2 linked regions of the Homo sapiens genome follow. The protein of the gene in region 1 interacts with the protein of each later gene in a pairwise test. Each region holds a gene or a part of one and is shown on either strand. Other genes may lie near its edges.

What was found. Proteins that work in one complex are often made in the same cells at the same time.
Region 2: the proteins of SPATC1L (region 1) and PINK1 interact in a two-hybrid assay, tested with the Homo sapiens proteins (one large-scale study listed by BioGRID and IntAct).

Annotation. Positions count from the first base shown.
Region 1 is NC_000021.9:46,167,275-46,171,185, reverse strand, and holds part of SPATC1L (speriolin-like protein), read left to right. Parts: intron 1-2,527; coding exon 2,528-2,878; intron 2,879-3,911.
Region 2 is NC_000001.11:20,636,458-20,639,957, forward strand, and holds part of PINK1 (serine/threonine-protein kinase PINK1, mitochondrial precursor), read left to right. Parts: intron 1-1,384; coding exon 1,385-1,672; intron 1,673-3,434; coding exon 3,435-3,500. UniProt on the Homo sapiens protein: Serine/threonine-protein kinase which acts as a sensor of mitochondrial damage and protects against mitochondrial dysfunction during cellular stress.

The DNA of each region.
Region 1 (3,911 bases):
TCATCAGCCTGGTTGGGGAATATTCAGTCCTCATGAGGGTGTGGGGCCAGGAGGTGTTGGTGGGCATGGACCCTCCCCCTTGGTGTGGAAAGCAAAGAAAGTGAACACACCTGAGCCCAGCGTCAGACCACAGAGGATGTTCACAGAGCAGGAGGCTCCTCCCCATCCACAAAGGATGTTCACAGAGCAGGAGGCTCCTCCCCATCCACAGAGGATGTTTACAGAGCAGGGAAGCTCCTCCCCATCCACAGAGGATGTTCACAGAGCAGGAGGCTCCTCCCCATCCACAGAGGATGTTCACAGAGCAGGGAGGCTCCTCCCCATCCACAGAGGATGCTCACAGAGCAGGGAGGCTCCTCCCCATCCACAGAGGATGTTCAGAGAGCAGAGGGCTCCTCCCCATCCACAGAGGATGTTCACAGAGCAGGAGGCTCCTCCTGGACCACAGAGGATGCTCACAGAGCAGGAGGCTCCTCCCCATCCACAGAGGATGTTCACAGAGCAGGGAGGCTCCTCCCCATCCACAGAGGATGTTCACAGAGCAGGGAAGCTCCTCCCCATCCACAGAGGATGTTCACAGAGCAGGAGGCTCCTCCTGGACCACAGAGGATGCTCACAGAGCAGGAGGCTCCTCCACATCCACAGAGGATGTTCACAGAGCAGGAGGCTCCTCCTGGACCACAGAGGATGCTCACAGAGCAGGAGGCTCCTCCCCATCCACAGAGGATGCTCACAGAGCAGGGAGGCTCCTCCCCATCCACAGAGGATGTTCACAGAGCAGGAGGCTCCTCCTGGACCACAGAGGATGCTCACAGAGCAGGAGGCTCCTCCCCATCCACAGAGGATGCTCACAGAGCAGGGAGGCTCCTCCCCATCCACAGAGGATGCTCACAGAGCAGGAGGCTCCTCCCCATCCACAGAGGATGCTCACAGAGCAGGGGGCTCCTCCCCATCCACAGAGGATGTTCACAGAGCAGGGGGCTCCTCCCCATCCACAGAGGATGCTCACAGAGCAGGAGGCTCCTCCCCATCCACAGAGGATGCTCACAGAGCAGGGGCTCCTCCCCATCCACAGAGGATGCTCACAAAGCAGGAGGCTCCTCCCCATCCACAGAGGATGCTCACAGAGCAGAGGCTCCTCCCCATCCACAGAGGATGCTCACAGAGCAGGGGCTCCTCCCCATCCACAGAGGATGCTCACAGAGCAGGGGGCTCCTCCCCATCCACAGAGGATGTTCACAGAGCAGGGGGCTCCTCCCCATCCACAGAGGATGCTCACAGAGCAGGGGCTCCTCCCCATCCACAGAGGATGCTCACAGAGCAGGGGGCTCCTCCCCATCCACAGAGGATGCTCACAGAGCAGGGGCTCCTCCCCATCCACAGAGGATGCTCACAGAGCAGGGGGCTCCTCCCCATCCACAGAGGATGTTCACAGAGCAGGGGGCTCCTCCCCATCCACAGAGGATGCTCACAGAGCAGGGGCTCCTCCCCATCCACAGAGGATGCTCACAGAGCAGGGGGCTCCTCCCCATCCACAGAGGATGCTCACAGAGCAGGGGCTCCTCCCCATCCACAGAGGATGCTCACAGAGCAGGGGGCTCCTCCCCATCCACAGAGGATGTACACAGAGCAGGAGGCTCCTCCCCATCCACAGAGGATGCTCACAGAGCAGGGGGCTCCTCCCCATCCACAGAGGATGCTCACAGAGCAGGAGGCTCCTCCCCATCCACAGAGGATGCTCACAGAGCAGGGGCTCCTCCCCATCCACAGAGGATGCTCACAGAGCAGGGGCTCCTCCCCATCCACAGAGGATGCTCACAGAGCAGGGGGCTCCTCCCCATCCACAGAGGATGCTCACAGAGCAGGAGGCTCCTCCCCATCCACAGAGGATGTTCACAGAGCAGGGGGCTCCTCCTCATCCACAGAGGATGCTCACAGAGCAGAAGGCTCCTCCCGGGAGGCCAATTACAGCTGTGTGTTTGCACGGAAACATGGAAACAGGCCCTGTCCATCAATAGGGCAAGGGTTAAAAATTCAGTGTGTGTGTCTGTATGTGTGCTCATGTGTACAGAGTTGCCAGGAAACAGTTAAATGAACCAGGTAGCTACCAGATGGCTCAGGGTGGATAAATCTCAAAGAGATAATGCAGCAGCAAAAAGTTCAGTTGCAGAATAAAATGTGTAGGGTGCTACCATTTATGTACAACTTAAGCATATAAAAGTCATTCTCCAGTGTGTGTGGGCACACAGGCAGGCAGGAGGCACACGGAGGCCTGCCCGCTTGCTGTGCCCATAGACGCAGTGCTCCCACGGGCAGGATGGGCACCTGTGGCCACTTCACCACATCCAGCTCCTCCTTTTACACTTGAGGCCTGAGGGGAAGGAGGATGCTCTGAAGCCAGGGAAACCCCGGCAGGTGTTGAAGCTTGGGGTGGGGTGCATAGGGGTTGTTAACATGTTCTTTATACTTCCCAGGAATGTTTTAGGAGCATCAGCCTGATTTCTCATCCCTTTCCTCCCCGCCTCAGTTCCAGATTTCGGAAGGTTCACGAGTGTTGCCGACACGCCCTCCCAACTGCAGACATCCTCCCTGGAGGACCTGCTGTGCTCACATGCCCCCCTGTCCAGCGAGGACGACACCTCCCCGGGCTGTGCAGCCCCCTCCCAGGCACCCTTCAAGGCCTTCCTCAGTCCCCCAGAGCCACATAGCCACCGAGGCACCGACAGGAAGCTGTCCCCGCTCCTGAGCCCCTTGCAAGACTCACTGGTGGACAAGACCCTGCTGGAGCCCAGGGAGATGGTCCGGCCTAAGAAGGTGTGTTTCTCGGAGAGCAGCCTGCCCACCGGGGACAGGACCAGGAGGAGCTACTACCTCAATGGTATGGCCGGGTGCGGGGGCACCTGGGGGGGCCCCCAGTGCAGGCTGGCAGCTGTGGGGAGGGCATGACTGGGTGGTCAGGCAGGGCCGTTTCTCCATCCAGTCACACAGAGTGGAGGGAGGAGAGCCAGGCTGGGAGGCTGGGGTCCAAGGCTGTGTCTGTCCTAGTCTTTTGTCCATCTTTAAAGATAAAATGGGTTGCTTATCTTCTTCTTGGGAAGTTGTGAGAGTTCTTTATGTGTCTGGATATGAGTCCTTTTTTGGGTGTATGTTTTGCAGATACGGTCTCCCACTCCATGGTTTTTCATTTTCATAATAATGTTTTTTGATGAGCAAAACTGTTTAATTTGATGATGTCCAATTTATTGATTTTTCTTTTGTATTTTATGCTTTTTATGTTCAGTTTAAGAAATCTTTGCCAAGCCCAAGGTCACACAGATTCTCTCCTGTGTGTTGTTCTAGAAGTTTTATAGTTTAGGTTTTACATGTAGGTCTCTGATCAATTCCAAGTTAATTTTCATATATGGTGTGAGGTTTGCATGTAGATATCCACCTGAGGCTCAGGCCAGCCTCCCACCTCAGCCTCCCAGGTATCTGGGACTACAGGTGTATGCCACCAGGCCTGGCTAATTTTTTGGTTTTTGTGTTTTTGTTATTGTAGAGATGGGATTTTGCTACGATGCCCAGGCTGGTCTTGACCTCCCGGGCTGAAGCAATTCGCCTGCCTCGGCCTCCCAAAATGCTGGGATTACAGGCATGAGCCACCATGCCTGGCCTGTCAATTTTATTTATCTTTTCAAATAACCGATTTTTTGTTACATTGATCTGTTGTATTGTTTTCTTCATTTAAATTTCATTTATTTCTTCTCTGATCTTAATTATTTTTCTTCTAATTTTGGATTTGGTTTGCTCTTGCATTTCTAGCTCTGTAAGATGAATCATTAGCTTATTTGAAGTTTTTCTACTTTTTTGATATAGGCACTCATAACTATAAACTCTTAGCACTTACAGCTATAGCTCTTAGTATGGCTTTT
Region 2 (3,500 bases), on another chromosome or scaffold:
CAGCCTCCTGAGTAGCTGGGATTACATGTGCACACCACCACACCCGGCTAATTTTTTGTATTTTTTAGTAGAGACGGGGTTTCACTATGTTGGCCAGGCTGGTCTTGAACTCCTGACTTCATGATCCGCCTCCCTCGGCCTCCCAAAGTGCTGGGATTACAGGCATGAGCCACCACGCCCGGCCTGGACTTTCATTTTTTTAAAAGGTTCAAAGTTATAGTGCAAGGTTAAGTTGCTTACAGATAGCAGGTGCTTTAGGAACCCTCTAGAAGGAAAGTTGCCATGGGCTGGGTCATCAGGGCTGGTCACAGAGGAAGGAGGAGCTTGAGTTGGGCTTGATGGCTGAGCAGGGATGAGCCAGACAGAGCAATACTATAGAAACAGGGGCTGGAAGGATGCTGTGAGCAGCTTTCAGAGGGAGGCGTCCAAAGGATGAGTGCAGGCAGCGTGCAGACCAGCCTGGCAGCAGCCAGAACACAGATAACCTCCTGGGCAGTCTGATGGACAGCCGAGTGACACATGAAAGCAACATATTTTGATGTGGCTCAGAGCAGGGAAGGCACGGCACTGAGAGTGGGGTAGTCTAGAGATGGTGCCTGGTAGGCTATGGCCAAGGGGCATATGCAGAGCTGTGCCTGGCACCCAGGGGTGACTAACCTTGGAAAGGAAGAGCTCAGCAGATCAGACCATTTGAGAGGGAAAGCGGAGCCTGGGTGACTGGAAGAGTGACGTCACCGCTGCCTGAAGCAGGGGAAGACCCACCAGATTTTTGTCACATGGCCTCTTTCCCAGTGCAGCACTGCCCCCAGCACCTGCACCTCCATCTATTTCTGTCTGAACTCTTGTACTCTTGCTACCTTTCTGGACAGAGTAGCCTCATCGGGGCCCTAAGAGGCAGAGAGAGAAAGACAGTACTGAATCCCTCTGCTCTGGGGATGCGCCTGATGTCACCCACTTGCCTGAGAGACCCTCTGAGATCACTGTGGATCACACACTCCTGCTAGTTGCCCAGGAGCCGTCAGCCAAGGTCTTTGCAGAGCGAGCTGTCTCCATAATCAGACACCTCCAGAACTCTGCTGGAGAGTGAAGGCAGCAAGGAGAGGTGCACTGGCTGCGGGACGTGGGGTTTCTGACCTCTCAGATCATTGAGTATTGTGATCCCAGTGAAGCAACAGAGTTTGAGAAAAATCATTCTGAATAATGAGAAAGAAGATGGCCTGGACCCAGGCTGAGCAGTAGAACCTGGTTGGGTTGTGTTTTTCTGGTTTATTGATCTGGTCGACGTGGACCACGCCTTGCTGCACCTCTCTCTGCCTCCCCTGTTTCCCTTTTCTTGGGCCTTCCTAGGCTCCCTGGCTCACGGTGCATTCTTTTCTCATCACAGGCAATTTTTACCCAGAAAAGCAAGCCGGGGCCTGACCCGTTGGACACGAGACGCTTGCAGGGCTTTCGGCTGGAGGAGTATCTGATAGGGCAGTCCATTGGTAAGGGCTGCAGTGCTGCTGTGTATGAAGCCACCATGCCTACATTGCCCCAGAACCTGGAGGTGACAAAGAGCACCGGGTTGCTTCCAGGGAGAGGCCCAGGTACCAGTGCACCAGGAGAAGGGCAGGAGCGAGCTCCGGGGGCCCCTGCCTTCCCCTTGGCCATCAAGATGATGTGGAACATCTCGGTAAGCACCAGGCCTTTCATCTTTAAAGGAGATGTTCTCAAAATGCCCATCTTAGTGGGCCTGGTGAGGATTTTTTCCAGGAAGTAGGTAGGAAAAGACAGATTATCCACAGGAAAGGTGCCTGTATAGTCAGGTTACCTCCCCCTGTTACACAGAAGTCTAAACCAGAATGTTTGAAATTGTATTCTGCCCACAGATCACCCAGAGATCAGGTTCAAAGGTAGATTTTGGCCAGGCCTGGTGGACCATGCCTGTAATCCCAGCACTTTGGGAGGCCAATCACTTGAGCTCAGGAGTTTGAGACCAGCCTGGGCAACATGATGAAACCCCATCTCTATGAAAAATACAAAAATTAGCCGGGTGTGACAGCTTGCACCTGTATGTAGTCTTAGCTACTTGGGTGGCTGGTGGCTGAAGTGGGAGGATCACTTGAGTGCAAGAGGCAGAGGCTGCAGTGATCCAAGATTGTGGCACTGCACTCCAGCCTGGGTAACAGAGTAAGACCCTGTCTCAAAACAAAACAAACAAACAAAAAAAACCCAAAGGTAGATTCTGATTCAGCAGGTCAGGGATGGGGCCTAAGATTGTGCCTTCCCAATAAGCTCCCACGTGATACCAATGCCACTGCTCTGTCAACCACACTTTGAGTAACAAGTGCCTAAACCACTGATTTCTACCTTGATTGGTTAGTTCACCATCCCCTCCTTCCTGCAACCTGCCTCACTGGAGAGGGGGAACTGGATCTCTTTCCTTTAAGCTCACTCTGCAAGCCCACCTCCAGCTCAGAGGCTTGCATGTCAACTCCCTACTCTCAACTCTTGGAAGGACTCAAGACTTTGGGAAATTGAAGAGTATTTTTCCCCCACGAAAACAATTTCTGTCCACTTAATTTATTTACCTTGCCATTGCTAGGTAGGTTTTAAAAATGTATTAAGACCCGATGCTCTGTCTCCTGCCCATCCCTGGGCCCATCCATTCAAGGCCGCAGTGGGAAGTGGCCACAGCCGTTCATGGTGGGCCCTAGAGGATGCAGTTTCTTGTTCTGATTTGGGGAATGAAGGTTATTAGACTGTTGCACTCCAAGCTGGGTTAATAGCTAACAAGTAGCCAAATCCTTTGCCTGTGAAACATCCAGTCTTAGCATCAAAACATGCCCTGGTTGGGGCATGACAGCTGTTGCATTCACAGCAGCTACAAGATTGTTGATTCTTACCAGATCTTCTTGATACAGGTTTCATATGTCCTGAGAGCCCTTCCCAATACAATGAGGACAATAAGGTGCTTTCCCCACTCTTTGGTTTTTGTCTGTTTGTCGTGGGGGATGGAGGAAGGCTGTTCTGTGATTCAGTACAACTTCACCCAGGGTGGAGCATGTCAGGCTCTGGCCTGGCTGCTGAAGGGAGCCTGCAGAATGAGTTAGTGATCCAGTGGTCAATTTTGAACTGGTGGGGACCAGAGGCACCGATGGCAGGAAGCAGCACCCCATATCCTGATCACCTTGGCATCTCCTCCAGCCCTGGCATCTAGGCTGCAAGAGTTTGAGGAGTGTGAAGAATCCTCTGAGTTGGCATGGATGGTACCTCTGTCTGCCTCCCAGGAGTAACTAGTCTCAGCCTGCCAGTTAAGACAGGTCATCTTATCTCGAAGGTCAGAGCCAATTCTAGGCAGTAGCTGCCCTGCTCCAGGTTACAGGCAGGGCTTACAAGGAACTTACCATTCTGCTCCGGCCTGTGTAACCCTGGGTTCCTTGTGGGTGTTCCAGGCAGGTTCCTCCAGCGAAGCCATCTTGAACACAATGAGCCAGGAGCTGGTCCCAGCGAGCCGAGTG